Linked DNA regions of Homo sapiens. The protein of the gene in region 2 purifies or fractionates together with the protein of the main gene of each other region. This does not show direct contact. Each region holds a gene or a part of one and is shown on either strand. Other genes may lie near its edges. The genes, in order: RRP1 and MOGS.

Region 1 (6,964 bases), on a different chromosome or scaffold from region 2:
GCTGAGGTGCCTGGCAGGTCCGCTAGTGCCTGCTGCTGGCCCCCTGCTGCCAGCTACAGAGCAGACCCTTGTCACATGCTGCCCCACAGCTGCCTGTTGCCCAAAAACCTTTCTTCTGCAGACAGTGCCATCAAAGCCCCAAATGCCCAGCCTAGCTCGAGCACCCAGCCGAAACATCAGCTCCCACAGCTTCTGGACCAGGCCACCCTGAGGCTCCTCACTTCCAGAACTTTTGACATGGCCTTTGTTGCCCAAGATGCCAGCTTGTAGTCAGCCACTCAGGGCTGTGTAGGCACCTGTGCCCTGGGACATCTTTTTTTCCTTTGCAGGCCTGAGGTGGCACCTCTCATCCTGTCCATACGAGATTAGAGGTCACATGGCACCTAGTATCTGCCTTGAGCTGTGGGCTTTCCCGCCTGTGCCCATGTTCTGACCAGGGTGCAGGGTGGGCTGTCCGTTCCCGGGTGTTTCCCGCCTGTGCCCGTGCTCCGACCAGGGTGCACGGAGCGGGCTCTCCATTCCTGGATGTTTGGGGCCAGCACACGTTGGGCACAGGTAGGGTTCACGGGGTCCCTTTTGTTCCAGGCTCCATCTGCAGGGCTGAACCTGAGGCTGGTGAGGAGCAGGCAGGTGACGACAGGGACAGTGGCGGCCCCGTTCTCCAGGTGGGTTCCCTGGGCTCATGGCTGTGCCCTCAGCCTTTGCCCCTCTGTGCTACCGCTTGCTCTGGAAGAGGAGGGGGGCGTTAGGAGGGAGGATGGCAGCTGTTGGCATGGAGAGTTACCCGGACAGGGGTTAGCTTTGAAGGAGGGATGGGTGCCCCAACCCTGCCCGCCTGTAGACGAGTGGGATCATTGAGAGTGGGGCTGGGGCCTGGGAAAGTGGGGCTGGGGCCTGGGAGGGTGGGCTCAGGCAGAACTGCATTATCCAGGGCTGGCCTCACCTCACGCTGTCCTCTTGCCTCACACATGGGCAGCCCCCCAGATTTCCTGCGGCCCCCTCGTTGGGGTGCTGGTGGGGAATGAGATGGCATGTGCCAAGCGGCTGGCCTGTGGGTCCCAGCGAGGAATCCACTCAGCCAGTGGGGTCTGACTTCAGGCAAATTGGAAACTTAAATGTTTTAAGTTTTAAATATGATTATCTGCAGACTGAATAAAATGTGGCTATCTTGGGTTAAAATTGATCAATTTAACCTATGTTGTTCGTGCTTGTCTGTGTGGTTCCTAGAGTGGTAAAGCTGCAGGCAGGCTACCGGCGGGCGTGTGCCCTGCAGTGTGCCCCGCAGTGTGCATCTTCCAGAGTGTGCCCCGCAGTGCGTGCCCCGCAGTGCGCCCGCAGCTTGTGTGGTGCCCGCTGTGCTGTAGAGTGGGTGGAGCTGCAGGACCCTCAGTGAGGGTGGGCTGTGTTCCTGTGAGCCGGGTGGAGAACCTGCAAGTGGGACCAAGTGCTATCTGGGTCTCAGGGGTTCCACGTTCTCGGAGCACGCAGAGCGTGGCTGACCTTGCCTCTGTGACGTCTCTCTTTTGAAACAGTTTGACTACGAGGCAGTTGCTAACAGACTGTTTGAAATGGCCAGCCGCCAGAGCACCCCTTCTCAGAACAGAAAGCGTCTCTACAAAGTGATCCGGAAGTGAGTGTGTGAGGGCGCTGCGTCCTCCCTGCTCCCCTTGGAGTTGCCCTTTCTTGCTCAGATCTGGGTGCCTTTGCCTTGTCCTGGGCCCTTCCGCAGCCCCCGGGGTGATCCCCGCTAGGACCCTGAGACCGTCCCCAGCCCCTGGGGTTCCCCTGGCTAGGAACCTGCAGCCGCTCTAGCTGGAGCTTCCTCCTCCTGCGGAAGCCGCAGCTGTGGTAAGTGGGTATCTGTCTTACTCTTTCAGGCTGCAGGACCTGGCAGGAGGTGAGGATCGGCCGGGCACTGACAGTGGCACCACCTTGGAGGTGGAGCTCCATCCTCGTGGGAGTGGTTTGGTTCTAGGGGTCTCATAGCACGTGGAGTCTCTTTGCAGAGAGGCCTGGTGGTGTTTCTGAGGGACAGGGAGGCAGGGCGCAGGGTTCCACAGCTCTCGTTTTTGTGGTTTTTGCTGAGTGGTTCTCAGACTTGAGTGTCCATTGGAGTGCCCCAGAGCCTGAGAGATGGGGTGCTGGCCTCAGGGGCTCCCAAGCACTGACCGCGGTGCTGCTGCTGGTCTGTTGGGCAGCACACGTCTGTTCTTGGCAGCGCGTGGCGGATGGAACTGGCATAGGTTATCGGAAGGACGGTTTCCTAGTGGGCGTCGATGGTTAGAGACGTAGGCGTTTCCCCTGGTGTTTCCTTATGAAAAGTTTCAGACCTGCAACTCAGTTGGAAGGATTTTATAGTGGATGTCTGCGTGTCCCTGCCGGCCTCCAGCATCAGCACTTCCTGTCCTTGCGTGAAGCTCCTCTATCCCAGCATCACACCCCTGCATCCGCCAGCGGGCGCGTCATCAGCTGTAGTCCAGGGTTTGGTTTTTTTATTTTTTATTTTTTGAGGCGGTGTCTCGCTCTGTTGCCCAGGATGGCGTGCAGTGGTGTGATGCAGCTCACTGCAGCCTCGATCTCCTGGTCTCAAGCGATCCTCCCGCCTCAGCCTCCCAGTCGCTGGGACCACAGGCGCACGCCACCACGCCGGCTAATTGTTGTATTTTTTGTAGAGACAGGGTTTCGCTGTGTTGCCCGGCTGGTCGTCTGGGGTTTTCGGGACAGCGCGCGTCAGTGAGGTGCGTGAGGATCGTGTGCATCTGGCAGGTTTTGATGCAGAAAGTTGCCTTGGGCCGCCAGCATGAGCATTGTAGGCTGTAGACTTTGGTGTACAGGTTGAGCGTCTCTAATCTGAAACCCCAAATCCAAAATGCCACCAAGTCCAAAGCTGAGTGCTGACAGGAAGCTCCAGGGAAATGCTCGTCGCAGTGTTTTCTGTTTGGGGTTTTCAGGTGAGGGCTGTTGAACTGGTGAATATGATGCAGACGTTCCAAAACAACCTGACATTCAAAGCACTGCTGGTCCCAGGCATTTGGGGTCGTGGACGCTCTATGCTGTACCTGTGTCCTGGATGCTCCAGGAACTGGCTTTTCCAGATGGGCTTGGGTCTCAGCTGGTTCGTTTCAGCTGTGGCGGGTACTGAACACGCTGCTCCTGGGCATTAGAACAGGGCGCTTTCTCACACACATTGTCAGGAGGTGGTGCTGGCTGGGGCCTGCTGGAAGCAGCGAGCCTCAAACCATAAGTCCCCAGCCCCCGAGAGCCCCCTGACTTCTGCCCTGGTTCTCAGGCATTTTCCCTGAAGATGAGATCCCAGAGAAGGCCTGCAGGCGCCTGCTTGAAGGGAGGCGGCAGAAGAAGACGAAGAAGCAGAAGCGTCTGCTCAGGTTGCAGCAGGAGAGAGGTAGGACTAGGGGGTGTGTTAGTCATGGAGCCGGCGTCCTCACCTGCTTGCTTCTCCCCTGGATGGGGGTCACCTGCAGTGTCTCCCCCTGAAGCATGAGTGCCGAGTCCCCCATCCTGGGTGCCTGCTATCCACGCATCCCGGAAATGCCCTGTCCTCGGCATCCCTCCTGTAGGCCTCTCCCTGCCTCCCCCACCCACCTTCCTTGTCTGCAGCTCCCCCGAGCTGTGTGCGCTGCCCTCCCTCCCGGTCTGGAGACATCCTCCTGGCTGGGCTGCCTCCTTCCGTGCCTCCGTCTTAGATCCAAGCCCCGTCCGCTCCTCTCCCGCACCCTCCAGAGATTCCTGAGTCTCTCCACGTCTTCCTTCCCCTTCTTCCCTCCACTTCTTCCCTCCACTTCTGTCCTTGATTTCTGGGGCTGCCTTCCGTGTTGGGCCTCTGGCCACACGAGTGTGGTTGGCATGTGATGCCCTCACCAGGGGCAACCCTGGGTCCGCGGCAGACCACTCAGGGCCTGGAGCTGCCTACCTGCAGTGGAGGGGGTTGAGCACAGTGCCGGGCAGGGCAGGGGGCCCATGGCAAGAATGGGGTGCAGAGGAGGCACATGGTGGCTTTGCCCCACACTGGGAAGCCTTCCCTGTTACTCTCTCCATGCTAAACTGGCCCCAGGGCCTAGGGATTCACCCCTTCCCTTGCCCAGAGCTCCGTGCCATTGAAGCCGTCCATCTCATTTCCCATGAGGCAGTGGCCTCCTCTTTGTAGCCGGCCCTTGGCTGTGTGAACCCTGTCGGCCCTGGCGTTCAGGACCTGGCACTGCCTGGCGTCCTGTTCTTCCACCTCCCCTTCTGCCTTGAGCCCAGTCCTGCCTACTCCTCTGTGCCTTTGCTCCTGGGTCTCATGACCCTGTCCTCACGCTGGTCCTTCTGAGGTCAGCCCTTGCTGAGGTCCTGAGCCGTGTGGATGGAGCTTGGCGCCCACACTGGACACGGGATGCGTCTGGCTGGCTGTTGTGGCCGTGTTGTCCTCCCAGGTCTGTGGTGCTGGCATCCTCAGCCTGAGTTGGAGTAAGTGGAAAGAGCCCGTGTTGGCATTCTCTGGCTCATGGGGTCTTGCTGTTTTGTCAGGGAAAGGTGAGAAGGAGCCCCCGAGCCCGGGCATGGAGAGGAAGAGGAGCAGGAGGAGGGGTGTAGGGGCCGACCCCGAGGCGCGGGCAGAGGCTGGTGAGCAGCCAGGCACAGCTGAGCGGGCCCTGCTCCGAGATCAGCCCAGGGGCCGTGGCCAGAGAGGGGCTCGCCAGAGAAGGAGGACACCTCGGCCCCTGACCAGTGCCCGAGCAAAGGCGGCCAATGTCCAGGAGCCGGAGAAGAAGAAGAAACGCAGGGAGTGATGTGGCCGGGCCAAGGACAGGCAGGGAGGGAGGCCAGGCCTCGCTTGCACCGCGGGACGAGGCTGACCGGGCTGTTCTGTAGACTCAGGACCGTGGCTCCAGAACTCCTGTGCCAGGCGGGAGGGAAGGGCGGCACTGGAGAGATGGGCCCATCATTAGGGGCCAGCATCCCAGGAACTGGACCTTTCCCCAGAGCCTCCGCCTGTGGCTGTGATGACCTTGGGCCAGAAGGTCAAACTCCGAAGACTGAAACTCTGCCTGCAGCAGGACTGGCCGCCCCTGCTGTGGGGGGTTCAGAAAATAAAATGCCGCGCAGCCCTTGCCAGGGGAAGTGTCGCTTCAGGTGTGTCCTACGGACGTGTGGGAGGTGGCAGGCGCCAGCCTCCGAGCAGTGTGGTGGTTTATATTCATGTTTGTGGAAAAATCTTGCAAGACATTTCTCCTTTCACAGAACTGCCCAGGTGTTAACAGGGCTGTCTGGACGGGGCTCTTTTGCTTCCCCCTCAATCTGGGGTCTAGAGTTGTGCAAGGAATTCAGCTCCAGTAAGGCCTGGATTGCCCGGGGTGAGCGTGTGTGTGGTGGGAAGACCTGGCTTCCGCGAGAGCCTTGTTCCTGGAGGCAGGAGCGCCCCGCCATCCTGGGTACCCGCGGGTCCGCAGGCTGCGCACCTCTTTCCCTCAGCCAGGTCACCCTCAGCGTCCTCCCTGCCCCTCTCCCCTTCACACCTGCTGGAGCCTGTGAGGGAGGTGGCGGGTCCCCACTGTGGCGACGGAGAGCTGACAGTAGCCCAGGGCTTTCCACCTGCATGGAACAAGGGCCTGTCTGCCGCCAGCGCTGTGGCCACAGCCTGCATAGGTGACAAGGGGCCGCTGCGTTGGGTTTTGCCCGCATCTTCTGTTCCATGGGTGCCCAGCCAGCCAGGCCGTGTGGGATCCAGCGAGAGGCCAGGGCTTGGAGTGGGCCTGGGACCAGGAAGGACCTCTAGGCTGTGGCTGGCCTTGTGCAGACCCTGGACTGCATCCGGTTCCCCAAAGCCCTGCTGCATTCGAGTGTCCCCCAACCCCGGGCAGGTGGCACCTGGTGACACCTCCTTCAGTCCCACTCAGCTGGGCGGCCGGGGCAGGCTTAGGGCACAGTTAGGGGCCAAGGAGAGGGAAGGCCAGGGCCCCTGTTCTAGGGGTTAGGGTTCTTTCCCCAAAGGAACTTAAAAAGACAAGCGTGGCCAGGCACAGTGGCTCACACCTGTAATCCCAGCACTTTGGGAGGCCGAGGTGGCCAGATCACCTGAGGTCAGGAGTTTGAGACCAGACTGACCAACATGGAGAAACCCCATCTCTACTAAAATACAAAATTAGCCAGGCGTGGTGGCACATGCCTGTAATCCCAGCTACTCGGGAGGCTGAGGCAGGAGAATTGCTTGAACCTGGGAGGCAGAGGTTGTGGTGAGCTAAGATCACGCCATTGCACTCCAGCCTGGGCAACGAGAGGGAAACTCTGTTTCAAAAAAAAAAAAAAAAAGACAAGCGTGTCTAACGTAAACTGCCGGTGGCGAGCGTCAGGTCTGGGCAGTGTCCCCTGGGCCTGGTCAGTGTTCCCCTGGGCCTGGCCTCTTTACCCCCAGCAGGGCCTGTTGGGACGAGCCCCTGCAGTTGGAGGCCTTTGGAAGGGAACGGGGTGCATTATAACGCTTTCTTGTTTTTGAAGTTTCTTTGGTCAAAAGCTAAGGAAACAACCATGCTAACAGAAGTTTCTGGAAAAAAGCAAATTAGAGATGCCGAATTGCAGTTGTGAAACTGGAAGCCACAGTGACTTTGCATCTTCTTTCACATGTGTGTTCACAGGGAGGGGTTTTTCATGGCTGCGCCGGCACTGTCACGCTCTGGCTGTTTCCAGGCCCTGCTGGGTGCACGTTTCCCCATATTCAGAATTGTTTTAAATAACCGCATTGTGCTTATGACATGAATGACTGAATTCCTCTCCTATTGGTAGCCTCTTTTACTTTTTTATTTTTTTATTTTTGAGACTGAGTTTTGAGTTGAGTTTTTTTTGAGACCGAGTTGTTTTATTTCCGCACATGAATGGTAGTTCCAGCTACTCAGGAGGCCAAGGTGGGAGAAGCGCCTGAGCCCAGGAGAGAACCATCGAGAGGTAATTCACATGGAGTACAGTTCGC
Region 2 (8,739 bases):
GCTCTGATGGAGCCAGGAAAACCAGGCATGCAGGCGGGGCAAGGCCTTTCGGAGGAAAGCCAAGTCGTCAGGGTCACCAACCTCTAGCATATGGGCTACAGGCAAAAGTAGGGTTGGGGGGTTGGCGTGGACTGCTCGTTGTACTAGGAATTCTGGAGGCACCCGGGCTCGGGCCTCATCCCCCAGTATCTGCTCCCTCCCAATCCAGCCATCAGCATTTAGCAGCCCCAGCCAGTGGCCAAGGGCTTCCCGGGTGAGGGAGGGATCCCACCGCTGAACCACCAGCTGGTGAAAGCCTTCATCCCAAAGGAAGCCTCGTGGGAAGAATGACCGGGAGGGCACTGCTGTAAAAAGAGGTACGGGTGGAAAGAGGGCTGGGTCCACCTTCTGCTCAGACCCTTCCACCCCGATGTCTGGCAATACCAGCCCTTGTCCGTAGAAGTAGCCAATTCCACCAAGGAGGCCGCTGAGGGCAGCCTGACCCAAAACCTGCTCGCCAGAGCTCAGGCCCTTCTCCTTCAGCTGGAAGGTCTTCTCAAAGCGCTCTCTAAAGCCTTCAGCATGGCTCTCCAGGGCCTGGGTCAGTAGACTGCCTGCCAGTCTTGGCAGGGCTTGATTTCCTCCTGCCTGGGCACTGCCTGATTCAAACACAAACTCTATGGAAATGGGAATTTTCAGGGTCACCTGCTGTATCAAGAACTGCCCCTGCCCTTGCCCACTTGGACCTCTGTCCTCCCACTTCAGGGATCCTGGCAAGCCGAGGTAGCGTTCAGGGGGGGCCCCTGGGGGCCGATGCTGAAACCAGCTATTTAGGCGACTCTTTACCATCTCTGTCAGCAGGGGCAGTCCTGGGTTGGAGGTCCAGAAGACATTGTAGCTTGAAGGGGAGAAGATAAATAGGAAATATTATTCAAGAGAAGGCAGTGGGCATTATAAAGAGAAATACAAAGTGTTCAGGAGTCAGGTTGGGAGGTCTCAGGCAGGGGACATGGAGACTGGTGAAAATGGGAATAACCACCCCTTCCATCCCCCAACATTCTTTTCCCCCAGTTACCTGCCATACTTGGGGGCTGTATCCCCTGGACTGGTTGGTGGCAAAAGTGTAAAGCGGAAGTCACCAAGTTCACTGGTGTGCCCACTGATAAACTTCAACTGCCCCTTGGCCCCAACCTCTGGTAGTAGGACTTCCTTGCCATCTGTCACCACATAGAAGAACAGGGAGACCAAAGGGAGGGCAGAAGTACCTGAGTCCTGAGTGACCAACGAGGACAGAAAAGAACAGTGTTAGATTGGCATTCTCTCTTGAATTCCCTCTTGAGAATCAGCCTTAGTGAGGGAAAGGAACAGTAGGCAGGGGTAATGTAAACAACATACGTCTGGCAGTAATGAGGGTCACTGAGGGTAACCAGGTACACCCAAGCGGGATGAGATAAAGAGCCTTGCACTGGGTGCCCTGGGAGATAACAGTATACTTTTGTACTATGTCCTACACTAAGAACTCTACACAGTTGATTTCATTTAATTCTTTTTTTTTTTTTTTTTTTTTGAGGCGGAGTCTCGCTCTGTCGCCCAGGCTGGAGTGCAGTGGCGCGATCTCAGCTCACTGCAAGCTCCGCCTCCCAGGTTCACGCCATTCTCCTGCCTCAGCCTCCCGAGTAGCTGCGACAATAGGCGCCCGCCACCACGCCCAGCTAATTTTTTGTATTTTTAGTAGAGACCGGGTTTCACCGTGTTAGCCAGGATGGTCTCCATCTCCTGACCTCATGATCCGCCCGCCTCAGCCTCCCAAAGTGCTGGGATTACAGGCGTGAGCCACCGCGCCTGGCTTTTTTTTTTTTCTTGAGATGGAGTTTTGCTCTTGTTGCCCAGGCTGGAGTGCAATGGCACGATCTCGGCTCAGCGCAACCTCCACCTCCCTGGTTCAAGCAATTCTCCTGCCTCAGCCTCCCAAGTAGCTTGGATCACAGGCATGCGCCACCACGCCCGGCTAATTTTATATTTTCAGTAGAGACGGTGTTTCTCCATTTTGGTCAGGCTGGTCTGGAACTCCTGACCTCAGGTGATCCGCCAGCCTCGGCCTCCCAAAGTACTGGGATTACAGGCGTGAGCCACCGCGCCCAGCCTCTTTTTCATTTAATTCTTACAGTCCTGTGAGTTAAGTGCTATTATTATCTACATTGTACATTTTACAAGCAAGGAAATCAAGGCTTAGAGATGGTAAATAGAAATGGTTATACAGGCAGTTGTTTAAGGCAGGATTTAAGCCAGGCAGCCAGAGCCCACTTCATGCTGCATTTGCTGGCAGCAAGGGAAGGATGGAGGGGGTCTGGGCTGAGAAAAGGGTGTCCTGAGGCCCTGACCTGAGGCTCTACAGTCACTCTCCAGCTCCAGTCCCCTCCGTGCTGACCCCCAGGCCTCTTGACGAACTCAGTGGTGAGCCTTAAGGCCCCATCCTGGATGTGTTGGCGCCCGAAGGAGAGGCCGTCGTGGAACTCCCAGCCATAGGGACCCACACCGTCCCCCTGCTCACACGTGTGCCTGAGCTTAGGAGTCCCCGGGGTGGTGCCCTGCTGCGCCCACATCAGTCCTGGGGGTAGAATGGCCACGTAAGTCAAAGAGCAGGGGACCTGTCCCTCCGGGTCTCCGGGTCATCCCTCTTCATAACTCTCCTGATCCATTCCTTCCCACCCTTGCTCTCGCTTCAAGCTGGGGCGCCCAGATTAGGAGTCCGCCTGCCTGCCCGCCCTGGGGCCCGGTTACCGGTGAGGAGGGGCTTCGGGCTGCGGGTCTTCATGCCGAAGTAGACGTGAGGGCGGTAGGTTCCCCAGAAGAGGTCCGGGGCCACGGCGGGGCTGGAGGAGTCGGCAGGCAACACAGGAGGCGCGGAGTGCAGCGTGACCGCCCGCCGCGCACGGTACCACGCCAGCACCCAGCGCCCCGACATACCCAGGGCCAAAGACAGGACCACGACGGCCAGAGCCACTCCTCCAGCCGTGCTACGCGGCCCGCCGCCCCGGCCGTCCCGTCGCCCGGGGCCTCCCCGAGCCGCCCTCTCGGCTGTCCGCACTCCCTCTGCCGGCACTGCGCGGCGCCGCCGCTCGCCCCGAGCCATCCTGGCACTGAGGTCCGCGTCACAAGAGCTCGGAGAGGCGGCAGTGGAGCCCGGGTCCTGCCTCACCTCTCCGGCTCCCGCCTCTCGCCCTGGCGACCACCGTCCGGTTAGCGACACCTGCCAGCCAGCGCCTGCGCCTCCGCCTCCGCCTCCCGCCGGAAGTCCCGCCCCGCCACGTTAGGTTAAGTCCCAGAGTCCGGAACCGCTGCCTGCGGCTTGACACAGGGTTGGTACGTAGCGTCTGTCCTGGGCGTTGGTCCACCGGGATTGCGTTTATCTGGCGACCCCATGGAGTTCACAGGCTCGGAAAAACCAATCTAACGTTGGGCTGAGGCATGAGAATCGTTTGAACCCGGGAGGCGGAGGTTGCAGTGAGCCGAGATTGTGCCACTGCACTCCAGCCTGGGCGACAGAGCGAGACTTCGTCTCAAAAAAAAAAAAAAAAGACTGATGTGGCCAGGCACCGAGGCGCACATCTGTAATCCCAGCACTTTGGGAGGCCGAGGCAGGTGGATCACCAGACATGAGGAGTTGGAGACCAGCCTGGTCAACTTGGTGAAACCCCATCTCTACTAAAAATACAAAAATTAGCCGGGTGTGGTGGTGGGTGCCTGTAATCCCAGCTATTCGGGAGGCTGAGGCAGGAGAATTGCTTGAACCTGGGAGGCGGAGGTTGCAGTGAGCCGATATTGCGCCATTGCACTCCAGCTTGGGCAACAAGAGTGAAACTGTTTCAAAAAAAAAGAAAGAGAGAGAGAGAGAGAGATGGAGGGAGGGAGGGAGGGACGGAGGGAGAGAGAGAGAGAGAGAGAGAGACTGATGCTTTATGCAACACGACCACTTATATTTCACTATAATCTGACTGGTGGCCCCACTCTCCACTAGTGGTAGACTTTTTGCTTATGAAATCATCTGACCAAACCCAATGGTTAGTCCTGTTTTTGTCTTTCTTGCTACCGTTGCATTTGTCGACATCCTTATTGTAGCACTTATTACATACCTGTTTCATTTTTCATCTTTGTATCACAGTACTAATCAATTATAGGCATAAGGCAGATGCTAAATATTTATAAATTCAACACATGTTTATTGTACACCCTATATCGCATTATGCAAGGTGCTGGGGACTCAGAGAAAATGGCCCCAACCTCAAGTTCACAGTCTAGAAGCACAATGCCAGCACTCAATGCATGTTGAACCATACCCATTTTTTTTTTTTTTTTTTTTTTGAGACGGAGTCTCGCTCTGTCACCAGGCTGGAGTGCAATGGCATGATCTCGGCTCACTGCAACCTCTGCCTCCAGGGTTCAAGTGATTCTCCTGCCTCAGCCTCACGAGTAGCTGGGATTACAGGTGCCCACCACCACGCCCAGCTAATTTTTGTATTTTTAGTAGAGATGGAGTTTCACCAGGTTTGCCAGGCTGGTCTCGAACTCCTGACCTCAGGTGATCCACCCACCTCGGCCTCCCAAAGTGCTGGGATTACAGGCGTGAGCCACCGCGCCTGGCCAGACCACCCCCATTTTTACAGATGAGGAGAGTAGTTAAGACTGACCCAAAATAACAGCCAGTTAATTATGGAGCTGGGGAACTCAAATCCAGGTTGTTCTTTTGACTTTAGAATAAGGCCTCTTAGGGCAGGCGCAGTGGCTCAAGCCTGTAGTCCCAGCACTTTGGGAGGCAAAGGCGGGCGGATCACCTGAGGCTGGGAGTTCGAGACCAGCCTGACCGACATGGAGAAACCCCGTCTCTACTAAAAAATACAAAATTATCTGGGCATGGTGGTGCATGCCTGTAATCCCAGCTACTCGTGACACTGAGGCAGGAGAATCACTTGAACCCGGGAGGCAGAGATTGCAGTGAGCCAAGATTGTGCCATTGCACTCCAGCCTGGGCAACAAGAGCGAAACTCTTGTCTCAAAAAAAAAAAAAAAAAAAAAAAAGAATAAATAAGGCCTCTTAGATAACAGCAGTTACTACACTCCCAGCAATGTTTTAGGTACTTTACAGATATTAATTCATTTAATCTCCTTAACAGTCCTATGAGAAAAGTACTATTATTTTCATTTTACAAATGAAATAAGCACTGATAGATTAAATAATTTGTCTAAAGTCATACAGCTACATAAAAACAAAGCTAGGATCTCAACCCCAAGCAGTCTGGCTCATTACAACACTATACTGCCTCCTCCTAGCTTTCTTTTTTAAAGGGGGAGGGGAAAAACGGTCCTTTGAAGATAGCACCCTTTTAGACCGGGAAAAGGTATAGTAATGCTGCTGTAGGAGGGTCGTGGGAAATGTATCTGGCAAAGTACACAGCAGGCCACTGTCTACAGATCTTTTGTTACCTAGCTGAGCATTGTGAAGGTGTCTAAAGCAGTGGCTTTCAACCATTTTCCTACAACTCACAATAAGAAATAATTCCATAGTGCAACCCAGTATGTGCAGATACACATACACACACAACTTATTTAAAACAAGTTACCTAAAAGAATACTTTTAGCTGGGTGTGGTGGCTCACGTCTGTAATCACAGCACTTTAGGAGGCCAAGGCAGGAGAATCACTTGAGTTCAGGAGTTCTAGACCAGCCTGGACAAGATGAGGAGACCCCCCCATCTACAAAAAATTTAAAAATTAGGGTTGGCCGGGTGTGGTGGCTCACGCCTGTAATCCCAGCACCTTGGAAGGCTGAGGCGGTGGATCACCTGAGGTTAGGAGTTCAAGACCAGCCTGGCCAACATGGTGAAACCCCGCCTCTACTAAAAACACAAAAATTAGCTGGGCATGGTGGCACGCGCCTGTAATCCCAGCTACTTAGGAGGCTGAGGCAGGATAATCACTTGAACCCGGGAGGCAGAGGTTGCAGTGAGCTGAGATGGCACCATCGGCGACAGAGCAAGACTCCGTCTCAAAAAAAAAAAAAAAAAAAAATTAGGGCTGGGCACGGTGGCTTACTCTTGTAATCCTAGCACTTCGGGAGGCCAAGGAGGGTGGATTACTTGAGGTCAGGAGTTCCTGACCAGCCTGGCCAACATGGTGAAACTCTGTCTCTACTGAAAATACAAAAATTAGCTGGAAATCGCTTGAACCCAGGAGACAGAGATTGCAGTGAGCTAAAATCGTGCTCCACTGCACTCCAGCCTGGGCAACAGAGCAAGACTCCATCTCAAAAAAAAAAAAAAAAAATTAGGCCAGGCATGGTGGCTCACGCCTGTAATTCCAGCTGCTTGGGAGGCTGAGGCGGGAGGACTGCTTGAGCCCAGGAGATGGAGGGTGCAGTGAGCTACGATTGTGCCACTGCACTCCAGCCTGGGTGACAAAGCATGACTTAATCTCTTTAAACTTCCTATTCTAAGTGCCATGCAGTCTGATTTTTTTTTTTTTTTTTTTTGAGATGGAGCCTTGCTCTTGTCAACCAGGTTAGAGTGCAATGGTGCTATCGGCTTACTGCAACCTCCACTTCCCGGGTTCAAGCAATTCTCCTGCCTCAGCCTCCCAAGTGGCTGGGATTACAGGTGCCCGCCACCACACCCGGCTAATTTTTTGTATTTTTAGTAGAGATGGGGTTTCACCATGTTGGTCAGGTTGGTCTTGAACTCCTGACCTCAGGTGATTCCGCCCACGTCGGCCTCTCAAAGTGATGGGATTACAGGCATGAGCCATTAAACTCAGCCTCAGTCTGATAATTTTTATTCTATTCTACTTTTTTTTTTTTTTTGAGACAGAGTCTCACTCCATCAACCGAGCTGGAGTGCAGTGGCATGATCTCCACTCAGCGCAGCCTCCACCTCCTGGGTTCAAGTGATTCTCCTGTCTCAGCCTTCTGAGTAGCTGAGATTACAGGTGCCTGCCACCACACCCAGCTATTTTTTATTTTTTTATTTTTAGTAGAGACAGCGTTTCATCATATTGGCCTGGCTGGTCTCTAACTCCCAACCTCAAGTGATCTGCCCGCCAAAGCCTCCCAAAGTGCTGGGATTACAGGCATGAGCCACTCCACCCGGCCTACTTTTTTTATTTTATTTTATTATTATTATTTTTTTAAGAATGGTTTAGGCTGGGTGCGGTGGCTCATGCCTGTAATACCAGCACTTTGGGAGGCCGAGGTGGGTAGATCACCTGAGGCCAGGAGTTCGAGACCAGCCTGACCAACATGGAGAAACCCCCTCTACTAAAAGTACAAAATTAGGCATGGTGGTGCATGCCTGTTATCCCAGCTACTTGTGAGGTTGAGGCAGGAGAATTGCTTGAACCCGGGATGCGGAGGTTGCAATGAGCTGAGATTGTGCCATTGCACTCCAGCCTGGGCAACAAGAGCGAAACCCTATCTAAAAAAAAAAAAAAAGAATGGTTTAACTCCCTAAATTGATTGCATGGTCCACACTAATGAGTGTTGAGGAAGTATGAAAAACAGTTTAGGCAATGTTTTTTCTTTTTTTGAGACGGAGTCTTGCTCTGTCACCCAGGCTGGAGTGCAGTGGTGCAGTATCGGCTCACTGTAACCTCCACCTCTTGGGTTCAAGCAGTTCTCCTGCCTCAGCCTCCTGAGTAGCTGGGATTACAGGCAACTGCCACCACGCCCGGCTAATTTTTGTATTTTTAAGAGATGAGGTTTCACCATGTTGGTTGGGCTGGTCTCGAACTCCTGACCTCATGATCCACCCACCTCGGCCAAATCCCAAAGTGCTGGGATTACAGGCATGAGGCACCATGCCCGGCCGGCACTGTTTTCTTAAACAGGGAGTAGTGAGAGATAAAACCCATCGCATGTTTTGGAAGGATAAAATTAAGTGGCAGCAAAAATATTTAGGAAATAGACTGGGTAGCAGAATGCAATAATGATGAATAGAGTGAATGGGAATGGAGAGATCACTTCAGAAGTTTTGTTTTGTTTTTGAGACAGTGTCTTGCTCTGTCACCAGGCTAGAGTGTAGTGGTGCAACCACAGCTCACTCTAGCCTTGAACTCTTAGGCTCAAAAGGATCCTCCTGTCTCAGCCTTCTGAGTAGGTGGGACTACAAGTATGAGCCACCTTGCCCAACTTTCAGGCACTTTTTTAAAAGACAGAATATTCTGAACTGAGTGACCAGATATGCAGAGAATGGAAAGGAACAGAACTAGAGAACACTGGTTTCCAGCCCAGGTGGCTGAGTAGATGAAGTGCCTGTTTTTAAAAAGGAATGGGTAAGTCAGGGAAGAGAGGCAAGTATATGTGTATGTAAGATTATCAATTCTATTTTATACAAAGAGAGTTGGTGGGATTTGGAGGAAATTGGTAGCAGGTAACCTGATTATAGCATAGAAGTTGGGATTAGAACCAAACAGAAATAGTTTAACCCCAGAAGGTGTAATTCAAGTTGTGAAAGAGGATGAGATGCCCCAGAAAAAAATAGAGAAGAAAAAGAATGAAGGTAGAACACCTGTGTGGTTCAAAAGAAAAAGGACCCAAGAGGGAGAGAAGTTCCACAAATGGGTGAATTAAGAGTTGCAGGCCGGGCACAGTGGCTCATGCCTGTAATCCCAGCACTTTGGGAAGCCGAGGGGGCGGATCAGGAGTTTGAGGACAGCCTGGCTGACATGGCAAAGCCCCATCTCTACTGAAAATACAAAAATCAGCCAGGCGTGG

The links.
Region 1: the proteins of MOGS (region 2) and RRP1 purify together in Homo sapiens (co-immunoprecipitation; 2 studies listed by BioGRID and IntAct, with this or other methods). This does not show direct contact.

Annotation. Positions count from the first base shown.
Region 1 is NC_000021.9:43,798,985-43,805,948, forward strand, and holds the end of RRP1 (ribosomal RNA processing protein 1 homolog A), read left to right. Parts: intron 1-585; coding exon 586-665; intron 666-1,532; coding exon 1,533-1,630; intron 1,631-1,877; coding exon 1,878-1,897; intron 1,898-3,289; coding exon 3,290-3,403; intron 3,404-4,336; coding exon of another isoform or gene 4,337-4,461; exon of another isoform or gene 4,462-4,521; intron 4,522-4,527; coding exon 4,528-4,790; 3' UTR 4,791-6,309; downstream 6,310-6,964. UniProt on the Homo sapiens protein: Plays a critical role in the generation of 28S rRNA.
Region 2 is NC_000002.12:74,462,136-74,470,874, forward strand, and holds the start of MOGS (mannosyl-oligosaccharide glucosidase), read right to left. Parts: upstream 3,248-8,739; 5' UTR 3,113-3,247; coding exon 2,761-3,112; intron 2,588-2,760; coding exon 2,361-2,587; intron 1,252-2,360; coding exon 1,055-1,251; intron 878-1,054; coding exon 1-877. UniProt on the Homo sapiens protein: In the context of N-glycan degradation, cleaves the distal alpha 1,2-linked glucose residue from the Glc(3)Man(9)GlcNAc(2) oligosaccharide precursor in a highly specific manner.